Regions from separate parts of the Homo sapiens genome. Here region 2 is linked to region 1. A link means that fine-mapping ties the variant in region 1 to the expression of a gene that starts in the linked region. Tissue or cell type: tibial nerve. Region 1 holds a variant in brackets; the other region holds the start of a gene. All regions are shown on one strand. Distances are between the middles of the regions.

Region 1 (7,699 bases):
TTAAAAGGATACCCCAGTCCTACAATCCCACACAAGCTTGCAAGGGCCCAAAATAATGCTTCAGCTGTCATTGCCTAAGATGACATTGCAAGACCATCCCAAGACCTTATTGTTGGAGATGACTTTGCCCCCTGTGCTGGAGACTTCACCTCTTACACTAAAGTCTCCACTCAGCAACACCCATGGGCTGCCTGTCCTAAGGCACAAAATTGACACGTTTAAAATGTTCTTTCTGAACTCACTGTCTGCTTAGCCCGTGATCCTGGTATAGTCCTTGTTCTCTTCTAAAATACACCGCTACACTTCCATGCCTAAAGGAAAACCTGATAGAGGTTACTAAATTAATGATGATTATTGCTTTCCCCAGGAGGCACCTATCTCATATTAAACAACCCCTTGGCCCCCTGGGGAGAAGACTGACTACTCTGTGGTGCCTTCTCCTACTGTAACCCCATCCAGCTTTCTACCACAGCCTCTTGACTTGCATCTCCAACCACAACCACTCCTTCCCCTTGGCTAGACACAATACCACTAATATTTACATATACTTTGCTCAATTATTAGTTCATAACCAACAACATAACTGCCATACTGAATGCTTACTTTCTTGGGAATGATATTATTCTCCTTGCAGTCAATATCTTCACCACTCAAGCTACAACTGTCTTACATTTAAAATATCATGCCAGGGCACCCAGAGGTGGATTGTCATCAATTTGTTTAATAAAGTGCTGCCTCAGCACCCATTTTTAGGACTGCCATAAGTTATTTGAAGCCCAGTCATATACTGTCACCTTTGGCCCAGTTAAAACTTTCCCTCCCTGTGTGGTTGTTTGCAATACAGCCCGTTTTTTCCTCATCTCATTGAACCAAACCCAACATATTCCACAGGTGCTGCCGTGATAAAACTTAATGGTTAACACCAGAGTCTTGTAAACAAGTTCCCCAATTCACAAGTGTTTTCTTTAAAGTAAAAAATTCACAACCCCTGAGGAAAGTGTAAGGGCTAACACCCGTGCACCTTAATAAAGACCTGGCCCCACAGCTCTTCTCTCTGTCTCTTGCTCCCCACCCGTTGGTTGAGCTCCCTGCCACCTCTAGCCTTCCCGTCAGCCTCCTGTTGACACCCCTAACCTCTATGTGATCTGTAAGTAATAACCTTCTTGTGTTTCATGCATTTGGTTTTACTTCCTCATTTTGTCTCACCTGCCTGATACACCCGAATCTAACTTTCTCCTAGTCAGGGCTCTCCTAGAAAGTGGTTATCTTGGTTTATGGTCACTCTTGAGAGAAAGACCTCAAAATCAAATTAAAAGTAAACCGTAACAATAGAAATCATAACAGTGACTTTTGCTATTAAGAAGGCAAATTTGCTATTAATAAGATGTACTATAATAGGAAAAAGCTATAACCCATAGACACATCTAACCATAGACACACTCAAAGCGTATCAATCAGCCCTCTGGATGGAAGCGTCTCAGAAATTAATCGAGAGTAGTTTTTGGCTAACTGCCTATGCTGATTCTCTGACGTTACAGAGCAGTGCATTCTAAGGGGACAAAATGACTTTATCAATCAAGGAAGAGCATGAATAAAGCCATTTTCAGACAAGCAATGACAGAAAATTTAGCCTTTCCTCAAAAGTCATTTAAAGATGTATTCAAAATGCAGGAGGGAAGGAAGAAAGCACAGTTTAAGAAAACTGTATAGCTCCAACCCAAAACGGCCAGGAGCGGGGATTCCTAGGACGATGGTTATGCAGTGAGCCTAGAAAGCAGCAGGTACAGACAGGAGCCAGAGGCTGCTTCAGAAGGGAGTTTTCAGGGACAGGGCTACTACAAACAATTGAAAAAATGCGTGAAAAGTGAATCCACATGATCATGAAGTTGCAACATTCTCCCTGGTGTATGGATCAGTTGGGGATAGTAACCCTGGACCCCTGAATAAACCCTGCACTTATCTCCAAACTACTAGTTGGTATTATATTAACAATTAATTGTTTGGTTATTCCACTTTCAATTCATACATGATACGGAGTGGGTGTAGGATAGAGAGGGATGGGGAGACTACAGCTTCTCAATTTTAGCTCTTTGTATTATTTAATTTGATACCATTACATATTTTGATTTTTAGAAATTTAGGTTGATAGAAATCACTAGGTATAACAAAATTTTAATATCGTCTGTTTACAAAATCTTCACTCCGAAACTCTCACTGTATTTTTCCATTAGTTGTATTCGTGCTGCCTCAGTTTTCTGGGAAAAGCCATTTTACCTTCCAAAAGGAATTGTCTTTCGCTTTTGGACAGAAAATAAGGCACTAATTACCTAATCCCTTCCCAGGAACTAACTTCATATAAAGACTAAAATGCCAGTACGGTTTTGATCCTTGAACAATACAGGTGTTAAGGGAAATAATCCAACACACAGTCAAAAATCCATGTGAAACTTTTGAACTCAGTAATTCCAGTGATAGTCTCTGTAGTAGTAAGTCCCCAGCAGGTCAGAACTGGGATCTGGAAAGTATTTCTGGAGACCTAGGCTAGCTTCTACTCTTTTGCCTGCCCTATACTTTCCTAAGCACTGATTCCTGCTATTAAATCTCTTCCTGATTAGTAATTGAAAGAAGCCATCATTTTTCTGCAAAGAACCTTAACTCCAAAGTTGTATTTGGTTCATTCTCTTTCATTACACCCCAAGCTAAGCAGTAAATAAGTCCTGCCAGTTCTTCTGCCATAATTTTTGTGCCCAGCCACTCCTTTTCCTTTCCATATTTTTATAATGTAAAGGGAAGAGCAACCTTGGATCCTAGAATCAACTGGCGGCCTTGCTATTCCTAAGCTATGTTTCTTTGGAGAAATCACTTAATTTCTTGGAATATTCCACAGTTGTAAAAGGAGATTGTTGCCAGTTTATAAGATATTGTGAAAATTAGAGATACTATTTGATGCTCTGCAAAAATCATCTGGCCTAATTTTTGGTATTTAGCCTTAGCCATGCTATTATTATTAAACTCCTACCTGCTCTTCTTGTTCTTGGATCTTTCTCAGTCTAGCTCTGGAAAGAGAGTATGTCCCGAGTATGTTTTGAATAACCATGGAAATACAAAAGTAGCCCTTGACCTCAAGGAGGTTTCATT[T/G]TAAATAACAAAACTGAAGTTTTCTGAAAAGCATGACTCAGATTTGAAAACAGAAAAAGTGACCTGAGATTGGTTTTGGGGGTTTTAGACTAAGAACCTTTTTGGTGAAATCAATGGAGGAATTTTTAGTGTTGATGATCTCTCTGACCAACCAGTGATTGAATTATTTTCCCTCAGTGTCTGAGATAAAAAGATTAACTTCAAAACTCAAATTATATTTGCTTTTGGAAAGATGGAGTAAGTATATTTTTCCCTATTCCTCCTGATAAGTGCAACTGAAATCTCTGGAAACAGTGTAAGACAAACAAGAAAATGCTGAAAGGTAGAGAAAATAAGCTGGCCATTAGGGAATATGGGAATAAAGAACAACATGGTGATGAGTTATCTGGGTATTTTTCTTTGGCCTCAAATATTTCAGACTGGAATGAGATTACCATTTGAGTTGGGAGCCTGAGTAAAGCAGATTGTTTTCCCTAATGTGGGTGGGCCTCATCCAATTACTTGATAGTCTGACTAGAACAAAAGGGCTGACCTCTGAGTAAGAGAGGATGTTTTCCTGATTGATGGCCTTTGAAATGGAACATTGTGTTTTGTTGTGCTGTTTTCCTGGCTTTGAACTCAGCTGAAACATTGATTCTTCCTGAGTCTCAAGCTGGCTTTTGGCCTGGACTACATTAGTGGTTATCCTGAGTTCTCAGGTTTTGGGGGGACTAGATTATTGGGAATGAAGAAGGAAGAGAGTAAGGAAAAATATGGGTAAACACTAGGCTTTCCTTCTCCTCCTAAGTTTTCTAAATTATGTTTGGTTGTGGAAGAAAAAAGTATTGGCCAGGTGTGGTGGCTCACGCCTGTAATCCGTTTATTTTACTAATAACTTCCCTACCTACCCCCACATCTACTCCTTGACACTCAAAACAACCTTCCCCTCCCCACCATGGATAACTGATACTTGACTTTTGTGGTAATAATTTTCTTGCTTTTCTCTACACTTTTCCCACCTAAATATGAGCTGCTATACACTATAGCTAGGCTTTCCAGATTTTCAGTGAGATTATTCTTAATCTCAATTATGTAAAGAATAATTTCATTTATGTAAAGATTAAACACCTGGAAAGCTAAGCTACAGTGTTTAGCAGTTCATACTTAGATGGGAAAAGTATAGAGAAAAACAAAATTATTACAATTTTATTACAATGTTGCTTACATGGATAAGTTCTCTATTTGTAATTTCTGAGCTCATAGTGCACCCGTCACCCAAGCGGTGAACATTTTACGTGATATTTAGTCTTTTATCCCTCACCCTCTCCCAACCTTCCCCCGCAAGTCCCCAAAGTCCATTGCATTCTTATGCCTTTGCATTCTCATAACTTACCTCCCACTTATATGTGACAACATAAGACATTTGGTTTCCCATTCCTGAGTTACTTCACTTAGAATAATTGTTGTTCATTTTTATTGCTTGACAGTATTTCATTGCATGTCTATTCCTCAATTTATTTCGTTTTATAATTAACATAATTCTATATGTTTATAGCATAAAATATGATATTTTGATATATGTATACATTGCGGAATGTCTAAACACCTTACTAATACTTTTTTAATCTTGCTAGTTATTACGGTAAAGGGATCCCCCAAGGGACACCATCATGACATAGCAATTGTAAATCCTAGGTTATATCCTGGAGTTTTTAAATGGTGCATCTACTCTCCACTCTTAGAAAGGTAGGTGATTTCCCAATTACTCTTTTCCAGGGGTCTTCTCCCCTCTCATTATCTTCATTTTCCACTTCCATCCACCTTCCAAAGACCACCAAATTCAATGTGGCATTCCCATTTGGCATTCTTGTTGTCCGAAAGAGGAAACCCTAGGTTATGCGTGGAGAAAATGAGTGTAGCCTGGAGACAGTGGCAGATTATTTCTCTCTCATGGCCCTCTTAGATTTTAACATGCCTCCCCCATGACTCCCTGCCAAGACCCTTTTATTTGCAAAGGTACCTCTATGGTCTCAGCCTCCAGACTTTGGATCACTTCATCAACTTAGAAACACTGGGGATTCTGTAGAAGTAGAGCTATAAAAGCCCTTTGAAGTCTAGAAAGAGTTTTCCATAATTCAGGCAGAGTATTCTTACTGGTTCCTACAGTAACGTTTCAAATGATGAAGAATGTTTCCACTGACCTTTCCTAGGCAACATGCATGCTAATAGTTCCAGTAGGAAATGTCTTTGCATGGCTTGGTACACTTAACAGGTGATTTACCAATGGTAAGAACAGAAGCAACAGACTTAATCTGGAAAATAATTTTAGTTGCAAAATGAGTAATAGTTCTTTTTCACAAATTAACTTTTATTGGCACTGAACTGGTACCAATACTGTATTTCATGGGAAATAAAGAACTCTGAGTAAATTTTTGAGCTCCTTATCTGTGAGCCACTGACCCACATTTCCTCCTTGAGTACACATACCCAAACCTGACCACTTATCTATACGTTTCCTTTCAAAAGAGTGCTGTGGGCCACTGCGCTTTCTAATAATAAAACTATTACACACTTCTTGTAATAATTTAGCTATATGAAAGTATGTGATATAAAATTAACTCTTGATTTTAATTAATCTTTCTATGCTTACAGGAAATATGTATATACACATATAAGGGTCCTTATATTTCTATTTTAATTTAAAAATCCAGACTATACATATTGTCCTAAATTTTTTCATATAACATATAGTAGACATTTTTCCAAATCAATCCTTTTTTGACCACATATCATAAATCACATATGCCACATATCATCTGAGTTTCTTATAGTGGAGAGGAACCCTCACATTGCCAGAAGCAGATAGAGCAGGTCTCCAGATAGCATGTGAGGACTACCATGTGCCTGTCAGAAATCCACACATTCGGCCAGGCGCGGTGGCTCACACTTGTAATCCCAGCACTCTGGGAGGCCGAGGCGGGCAGATCACGAAGTCAGGAGATCGAGACCACGGTGAAACCCCATCTCTACTAAAAATACAAAAAAAATTAGCCTGGTGTGGTGGCGGGTGCCTGTAGTCCCAGCTACTCGGAGAGGCTGAGGCAGGAGAATGGCGTGAACCCGGCAGGCGGAGCTTGCACTGAGCCGCGATTGCGCCACCGCTCTCCAGCCTGGGCGACAGAGAGAGACTCCGTCTCAATAAAAAATAAAAAGAAATAAAAAGAAATCCACACATTCATGATTAACATTTTCACATATACCTAGTCGTCTGTTTTTGGTGATAATGAAATAAAACCCCCCTCAACTAGAGCTCTTAATTGCTTGAGAGTAGAGTTGAGGATAAGGAGAAAATACTGGGGCTCTAAAAAGGGGAACCAACTTACAACTCTTAAATTATAATCAAACTAGTGGCCCCAATGTATTGAGTATTTACTATGACATAAGCATTGTGGTCAACAATTCACATACATTCTCACAACAACTCTATGAAATGGCTGCTATTTTCCCATTTACAGGCAGGGGGCTGGGACATTGAGAGGTAACTTGCTCGAGGTTATCTGGCTGGTAACTGATTACATTTTCAATTTTTTTTTTCTGATAAAAAAATATAATAGTACAAAACAATTTACAATAGAAGATAAATACCAATTCTGCCCACCCAAACGTCAGTTCTGTTATATGTCAGGGATAACTTCTTTTAACTATTTCTGGTTTTATATTTTCTGACGGTTACATAGCAATAAGTTATGATTTAACTCTGTATTTTGAATTAACACCTTTGGGCATTGTCTACTGACTCCTAACTATGAAAGATGGGAATTTAAGTCCTTATGTTACCCCCCAAACTGCCCAACTCTACTCTACATTTTTGACATTTATATTATCTTCATCTTACTGTATACTTTTATGATATGGAACATACATAATCAATGCTTATGACTTTTATTAAAATGTTTCAAAAAACATTCAAGTAGAAAGAAAAAAGATAATAGCCAGTAGAGTTTCTACTCCGAGATGCTTAACTATGAACATCAATTCTCATTGATATAGAACCTCAGATATTTAAATTATGGTTAAGAAAAATGTACTGTATACTTCCAAATAGCTAGAAGAGAATAATTGTAATGCTCCCAACATAAAAAGATGTTTGAGCTGAGGTGATGGATACCTCAATTACCCTGATTTGATCATTACATATTGCATGCAAGTATCAAAATACCACCTTTACCCCTAAAATTTTAGTGTACAACTATTATAGATGAGTAAAAAACTTTTTTTAAGAAAAGTTTTCATCTACCAGCAATGACTAAAACTCTAAAAGAAAGTAGAATTTAAAACTTGAAAGTAAAAAAAAAATCAGATATAGAAGTGTTTAGATAAATTGGATATCACATGTGAAATTCTAGAGTAGATGCTGAGTCTTTTTGAGATTTTTGCTTCCCCATTCCACTTCTCCTCAATTGATCAATGTAAACAGTTTCATGCATGTGTTTTCACACCTTAGATGGTGGTTTTAACATCAATGATGTATATAAATGTAGACCTATGCTTTGGTGGTGGGGAGGAGACTGTCATTGCTTTT
Region 2 (7,699 bases), 460 kb before region 1:
TAAAATATTTTATATAAAATATTGTTATTTGAGCTAGGTTTGATTTTTTAGGAAGTCAATTTCACATTTGTGTGAGAGTGAAATATCCAAGCATAATTCCTTGTGTTATTAATAAGTTGTACTTCTCAGCAAGTAGACCTTAATTAAACCAGATTCCTTTCCTTGATGATTATAATCTTCTAAAAGGTCACTGTTTTTATTTTATTGGATATTAAAAGATACTCCTTTCAGAAAAGTTTATTAGTTTTCACATGAACAGAGTACATTTTTTATTACATAGAATTTTTATATATAATTCTCTTCAAAGTCAAATCCTTAGAAAGTAAATATGAATACTATTTATTTTTCAAAGATGAACTCTTTGGAAAGGTTACTATTTTAATGCTAGTGAGAGAATTTCTCTTGGTTTTTATTTTAATAGTTGAGAATAGAGCTGCTACGTTAATGTGGCCTGCTCTGCCACCCAATGAACCAAATCCATGACAGGGTACAATAGGTGAGTGGACAATACGATGAAGATAGACCCTTTCCACTTCTTGTCAACTCCGGTTCCATTAACTGAGAAACAAATTTAATGACCTTCACATACCACAATTTTGCCATCTTTGCTGCCCTAAGAAATGTTTTACTGATCGAGTTTTCCCATTCAATTAGGGGATTAAAAAACTGCATCTCTACCGTCTTCATTTTTAGTATGGATTCTCTACTCATGTTCACTCACTCATTCCATTTAATTGGCTGCTGGATGACCCTAATAAATGACATCATTATTGGACCAAGCATACTAAAATGAGTTAGGAGATGCCTATAAATGCTTGTGGGGGTTTCGTGTTTGTTTGTTTGTTTGTTTACAGTGAAAGTAAGCTTAGGGGGTGGGTGGCTGGGAAGAAATATGTATGGTAGATTTCTAATCCTAGGATTGAAATTCTTCTCTAAAACTAACAATTGAAGGGACTTAAAAGACATTTTTTTCTTTTTTAATATAATGCATCTCTTTGCTAAGTACAATATGTCTAAACAACCATATTCTGGATGTAATATGAATCTCCCCCATTCTTATATTGTCTTCATTAAACATATTAAGCCCTAGAGTCATGACAGAAAATAAGGTAAGATAAATAAAGTGAAATTCAATATAATTTTACATTTAAATTTGATAAATGTCAAAATAATTTTGAACTTACTTTTGTGAGAGATCTGGCCATGTCCTAGAAGAAAGATAAAATTAGCAAACACATATAGATTTGTTTTTAAAGATGCTACATTATATCTTTTATAAAATAATTTGATTCTCAAAATATGTAACATTTTCTATCTATATATTATCCTGAGGAATAAAGCAGAACCATAAATGCTAAACAAATTATTAATCATAAAAACTAAATATTTAAACAAACAAATGGAATTTTTATTAAGTGCCTTCTATGGGATTCAAACCTAGGACTATGAGACTTCTGAGGCCTCTTATTAACTATAAGACTGTAACACATCCCACCTTCAAGGCTGGCCACCCACTGAGAGAGAGAGAGAAAGAGAGAGAGAGAGACTGAGAGAGAGTGACAGAGAGAGAGAGACAGAGAGAGTGACAGAGAGAGAGAGAAACCGAGAGAGAGTGCGCAAATCCATCTCTTTATTAAACAGGCATGACCCAGATCTTGTATTTCAGCCCATAAAAGATTTTATTTCACTTTCCTACATGTGCTTTCACAATAGTAAAATAAAGATTTATAGGAATGTTTACCATAAAGAGCCTTTAACAGGGCCACTTGTTTTTCAATTGAGGAATCTGACAAGAGACGAATTGTCATTAACTACATGTTCCACTGACCGTGCGATGAATTCAAGGAAACGATATTTCTATCCCAAGACAAATGTACTCTCACCTCAGGGAATGCTATAAAATCCTCTTCCACATGCACTTGGATCATCCGCAGTACTACCCCTGGAGGCCCGTGCCTTCCCTTTGTCAGTTTGGATCTTTAGTCAAGGGAGCGCTTCACTCGAATACAGTGAGGCATGCGAACCAGATCTTTCCCTCCCCCCGCGGGCCCGTGCGTGCCTTAGTGCGGTGTGGGCCAATGTCGCGCCTGGGGAATTACACCCCTCTTGGAGTGGAAATCTCTATTCAGAGCGAGAGACCCTGGGGTACTCCAGGAAGGAGTGAGCAGACAGGGCGGGCTGCCCAAGACACCTAGGGACGGTCGCCTATCTCACCAGCATCCCGTTTGCCCATTAATCCAAAGAACTGCTGAGGCTTGGGTCTCCGGGCGATTCTCTGCAGAAGATGCTCAAAGGGCTCCGGCAGTTCCTCCTGGGAGACAAAAGCACGGACAAAGGGCGTGTAAGGCAACCAGAGCGAGGCACCCAGCAACCCGAGCCCTTCCCCCCGCTGTACTCCGGCCCCGAGGCGTGGGGAGGCGGCCTTCCCCACGCTCGGGCTGAGCGGGGTCCCTCCCGAGGCGCTGCCTCTCTGCGCCCCTCCCCGCCGAACTCGCGTCCCGCCCCCCGCAAGCCTGCCAGGGCGAGTTAGCAGCTGGCTCGGCGTCTTCAAGCTTCGAGCGCTTTCCGCTCTTTCCTCCCAGCCCGGGGACCTTCCCTCATCTGCTGCGCCGCCACCTGACTTTGTCTTGTCTCGGTGCCGGCTTTGTAGAGTCCTCACCGCCCTAAATGCACACAGGTGTGTGGGATCTGGGGCTGGGGCTCCGGTGGGGAAGGGTGACAACGCTTTACAGACGACTTTCACCGTTTTTCCGAGGCGCGCTCCCCAGCGCCTGTAGCCTACGAGTTTCTAAAGGGAGACTTCAAGCTACATCCTCAGGTCCGCAAAACAAACGTGAAGGCAGGAAATTAACTTCCCTCCAGCCTCCGGCCCTCCAATCCCCCTGCAGCTCGCGCGTGTGCCCGCTGCTGCCCGCGACCCAGGCGCCCTCCTCTGCCCGTGCCCAGACGCTAGGGCAGTGCAGCTGGACCGGAGCCCCCGAAATCCCAGGTCCTGGGGGATGAAATCTTACGAGATTTCCCGCCTTGTGAGGATCTCGGGCTCATCCGGGAGGGCATCCCTACTGCAGGGAGTTCCTGGGCCGGACGGTGCAGCCCTCGGGAAGAAACTTGAATCGTGGGCACAAAATCCCGTGGGGAACCCGGGAAATAGTGCCCCTTTCCATCCTCTCGCACGCAACCGCTGCCTCTTTCCGTGGTGGCGGTGCGTGCCACGTTAACTAGGGTGCTGTTGCGTGGGAAGGTGACAGCTCCCGAGCCCAGGAAGAAGGGTGCGGGCCGTCCTGGGAAGGGGCCTCACCTTGATCTGGTCGCTGTCGTACCAGTCGGACCAGTAATTCAGATCATCATTGGCTCCTATTTCTTCTGCAAACAGCTGAGTGGAGACAAGAAAAAAGACTGCCAAGGCCACGAGGATTTTCATGTTGGATTTCTGGGAAGGGGTAGGAGGAGAAGACACCAAAGAGAGAAATAATGTATCTATTAGGGGTGGTTATCCAAGAGTTAAAGCAACAGAATTTTCTGCCCCACAACGGATGAACCAAGATCAAAAACATAAGGACTGAAGTCTCACCTGTACCGGTTAGGCGAGAGAATCGCGTCCCAAAGATTCTCCAACCCTCTTCTCCCTGAATCCCAACTCCCCCAGCCCCCTAACCCACCAACCCACACCTTCAAACCAGGAAACTCTGCAGGTGGAAGACAAAGAGGGGCGTTGGCGTTTGGGAAGCCAGTCTCCCCACTGTCCCTCGCCGCAGCGGCGCCCCCAGCGCGGCCACCTCGGACAGATGCGGGGCGGGGTGACCCGGGCAGCCGCGGCCAGCACCGCGCGGGCACTTACTGCGACGGACAGTCCCGCGGGGTGCTGAGTTTCTCTGGTTCCTCCGAGCGCACGCTGGTCGCTCCGCACTCTCGGTAGCTGCCGCCGGGAAGGAGGTCCGAGCGCGCTCTTTCGCCTGCTCAGTGCCTTGCGGTATTTATCCCAGCCTCCTTGAGCCTCCAGACCCACGTGACATTCTCCCCACGCGACTTTCTGCTCAATATTTAATTAGCCGCCTCCTCTCCTTTCGCTTGCGTGATTGAGAGTTTCCGAGACGGTAACTCGTCGATGCCCATAACATCTGGACCCAATTGGGTTCTAAATGACGCAATTTTAGGAAAATCGAGGTCTCGCCATCCAATCCGGAGCGGCCTGCTTCCGTCTGCAGATCTGACGCCCCCTCCCCTCTCCTTCGAAACTGGGTTTCATGACACCTGATATTACTCATCAAATTTGAGCAAAGTGACTCATTCCTTGGACTTCGGTAACTTTTCCGTCCCTCGAGACGTCAGGATAAGTTGCACTTTTCAGGATGGCCAAATAACTGTAGGCATTCAGACATTTCGTCGGAAATCAGGCTAAAAAAAGAGGACTACACTTGAGGGGAGATGCGGGGAAGCATTATTTTCCCTTCTATTTCTAGCTTAATAGTATTTAAGTGTTTCTGAGACACAGCATCGTTCTATAACCAGAACATCCCTCTTCTAAATCAACGCGAATACTGGCTTTTCCTTAGCATAACAAAAGGATGTTTAGTCCCATAGTATTTTAGAAGATGGAAGCAGATTTATTTTACATTTTGGAGAAAGGGGAATTTAAACATGACATTGTGTGTCAGACTTAGGATTTCTTTTGTTTCAAGCCGGGTAACTCCTCTTCCTTGCCACATCCAGGAGCAGGGGTTGAACAGGACGTTTTTTGCTTCTCTCCTACACTTTCTTGCTGAAGACTAGGAAACCAGCAACATAGTGTGTAGGATCCTCACCCTTGTCACTAAAGGGCTCTATAAATCATGTTTCTCCTTTCTATGAAAGTAAGTGTAGTGAAGATGCTAATGGGACAGTCATTAACAGCACAAAATATTAGACAAATAGCATTTGTACAGAAACCACACCTTTCCATGAGCCCTTGGTTGCCTGGCAGACACATTTCTTTGATCTCCAAATGAATTAAAAGATGTGACATCTTTGGTGGAGTAGTTTTCTCCCCTTTACATATGAAGTATTATATTTTTCAATTAATTATGATTTTTTAGTATATTGCATAAAAGAAATAAATTTTTGCAACTCAAACCAGAAGTATTTTTTTCTCTATGTTGTTCTTAAATAATCCTGAATTTGGAAATTCTCATGCATCTCTGATTTCTTTTGGCCTTAGCCTCACAATGTGAGCATTTTATTTTCCGTTTTCAGAACTTTTATATGGAAAATTATAAGCATATCCAAAAGTAGAGAGAAACATCCACTTCCAAGTTTCATCTACAACCCTTCCAGTTTCCTCTGCACTGAGATTATTTTGAAAAAAATCCCAGACAGTTAATCATTTCAACTGTAAATATTTCAGCATGTCTGTATAAAGGTAGGAATTAAAAAAAATAAAAACATATCCACGCCATTATCCCACCTAAAACAACATAAAATAATTCCTTACATTAAATATCCAGTTAGCATTCAAATATTTCTCATTGCTTCCTAATTCCGGCCCACACAGTTTACTACTTGAAATCAGAATTATAATGAAGTCCATACATTACAATTGGTTTTGTTAGTTCAGGCTGCTGTAAGAAAGTACCATGGTCTGGGTGACGTAAACAACAGAAATTTATTTCTCACAGTTTCGAAGGTTGGAAGTCTGAGATCGTGGTGTCAGCATGGTCTGGTTGTGTTTAAGGCCCTCTTCCAGGTTACAGACTGTCATATTGTCTCCTTGTTATATCCTCACATGGCAGGAAAGAATGAGAGAGCTCTTCAAAGTCCCTTTTATCGGGGCACTGATCTCATTCATAAGAGCTGCACCATCATGATCTAATTATCTTCCAAAGACCCCACTTCCTAATACCATAACCTTAGGGGTTACGATTTCAACACATGCATTTTGGAGGGACACGAACATTCCTTCTACTGCATGTTTCTTAAATCTCCCTGAATCTGTAATTCGCTCTCTCTTTCTCTCTCTATTGTAGTTTATTGATAAGACAGGTCAGGAGAGTGTACCGCATTCTGGACTTTGCTGATTGCCTTTTAACTTGTTTCTCTGTTTCGATTATTTCCTGTTAATTGGTAGTTGTATCTAGAAGTTTGATCCTCTGTACATTTTTTTCTTTTTCCTTTTCTTTTTCTTTTTTTTTTTTTTTGATGAGACTACTTCACATGTGTTGTGTTGTTCTGGTAGGAAGCACATGATATGTGGTTGTTTCTCCTTTTGAGTTGTTAGCAGCCATTGACTATCATTTTCTAGATCTATTAATTCATTAGTATTTTCAAAACAGTGCTATGTTGATTTTATCATTCATTATTTGTCTGGTAGGCAGACTTGTTTCTTTCATGTTTCTCAGCAACTAGTTATTCTAAAGCATTATTAATATAGGAAAGATGGGATAAATGCTTGATTATGTCTCTCTACCAATTTTGAAAATAATGAATTGGTAAATTAACACCTTTTAATAAGACCCACTTTAAAAAATTAGGATTATTATGACTTCCTGGATTTAAACACATTTGACATACAGTCATCACTCAGTATGCATAGGGGATTGGCTGTAGGACCTCCTGTAGGTATCAAAACCTGTGGATGCTCAAGTCCCTGATGCAAAATGGTGTGGTATTTGAATATAACCTATGCACATCGTCTCATATATTTTAAATAATCTCTAGATTACTTATGATACTTAATATAATATAAAGGCAGTGTAAATAGTTGTTATACTGTATTATGTGGGGAATAACACAAAGGGAAAAAGTCTGTATGTGTTTAGCACGGATGCATTTTTTTCTAAATATTTATGACCTATGTTTGGTTAAATCTATAGATGCAGAACCCATGGATACAGGGGGCCAACTATATTTCAATCCATGGCAGGCATTCTTCTAATTGAAGTTCAGACCTATTCTTGGCCTGCAGGTGACTCTTCAAAGTGACTCCTGAGACTTTATGCCAATAGGCTTTGATGGCTTTTTCTTGTTTTTGGTATGACAAAATGTTTCGGGTCAAAGTTATATACGTTTTGCTTCTGACCCGAAATCTGCCTTTAAGGGGCCCTAATTTTAGAATTGAAAATGACCATTAGAGATCATAAACTGGGCTTTATTTTTACACGTTGTTAGTGAGTTCTTCATTGCTTCAAGACCTTTTCAGCAGACAGAGCTGAGAACAATGTGTGTGTGTGTGTCTCTCTGTGTGTGTGTGTGTGTGTGTATCTATAATCATGAATGTATACCGACTTTCTTTTCAAATCAGGATCTCATAGAGTTTTTAATTAACCTTTTGCATCTCTTTTTCCATACTCCAAATGACATCAACATGATTATTCATTAGCTTTATCCCAATACATGGTGCCAATATGATCAACAATATCATTACTGGAAACAGATTAAGAGTTTTTGTTTGCAGTTTTGTTCTTTTTTAATCTTTAGAGCATATCACACCAGGTATGTTCGGTCATATTACTGTGTTATAAAGTCTCTTTACAAGTTCTTTGTATGGTTATGCTACCAACTCTTACACAGGTAGATTCATTTTCTCATTCTGCTCAAGTTATAGGGATCATTTTTTAAAAGTAAGTTTAGAATTATGTAAAATACATGGTTCTAAACTCAAATATTAAAAACATTATGTGGCCGGGCGTGATGGCTCACGCTTGTAATCCCAGCACTTTGGGAGGCC

Which allele goes with the higher level. Positions count from the first base shown, and alleles are read on the strand shown. Sizes are in standard deviations (SD) of each study's normalised expression.
For the expression in tibial nerve of the gene that starts at base 3,948 in region 2, allele G in region 1 goes with a higher level than allele T (moderate effect, 0.60 SD a copy in GTEx).

What was found. PIP is the estimated chance that this variant, and not a neighbour inherited with it, causes the effect.
Region 2: TAC1 starts here. The variant in region 1 is fine-mapped to the expression of TAC1 in tibial nerve (GTEx, PIP 0.99).

The regions. Positions count from the first base shown.
Region 1 is chr7:97,265,905-97,273,603 of GRCh38, reverse strand. It overlaps LOC124901704 (a long non-coding RNA gene), which reads left to right and starts at 1,017. Exons shown (of 3, transcript XR_007060445.1): 1 at 1,017-1,147. RefSeq lists an enhancer at 3,435-3,955. The variant T/G (reference allele first, on the strand shown) is at 3,139.
Region 2 is chr7:97,728,335-97,736,033 of GRCh38, reverse strand. It overlaps TAC1 (tachykinin precursor 1), which reads right to left and starts at 3,948. Exons shown (of 7, transcript NM_003182.3): 1 at 3,839-3,948; 2 at 3,299-3,430; 3 at 2,215-2,311; 4 at 1,742-1,786; 5 at 1,185-1,208. The coding sequence starts at 3,421. RefSeq lists an enhancer at 3,590-4,789.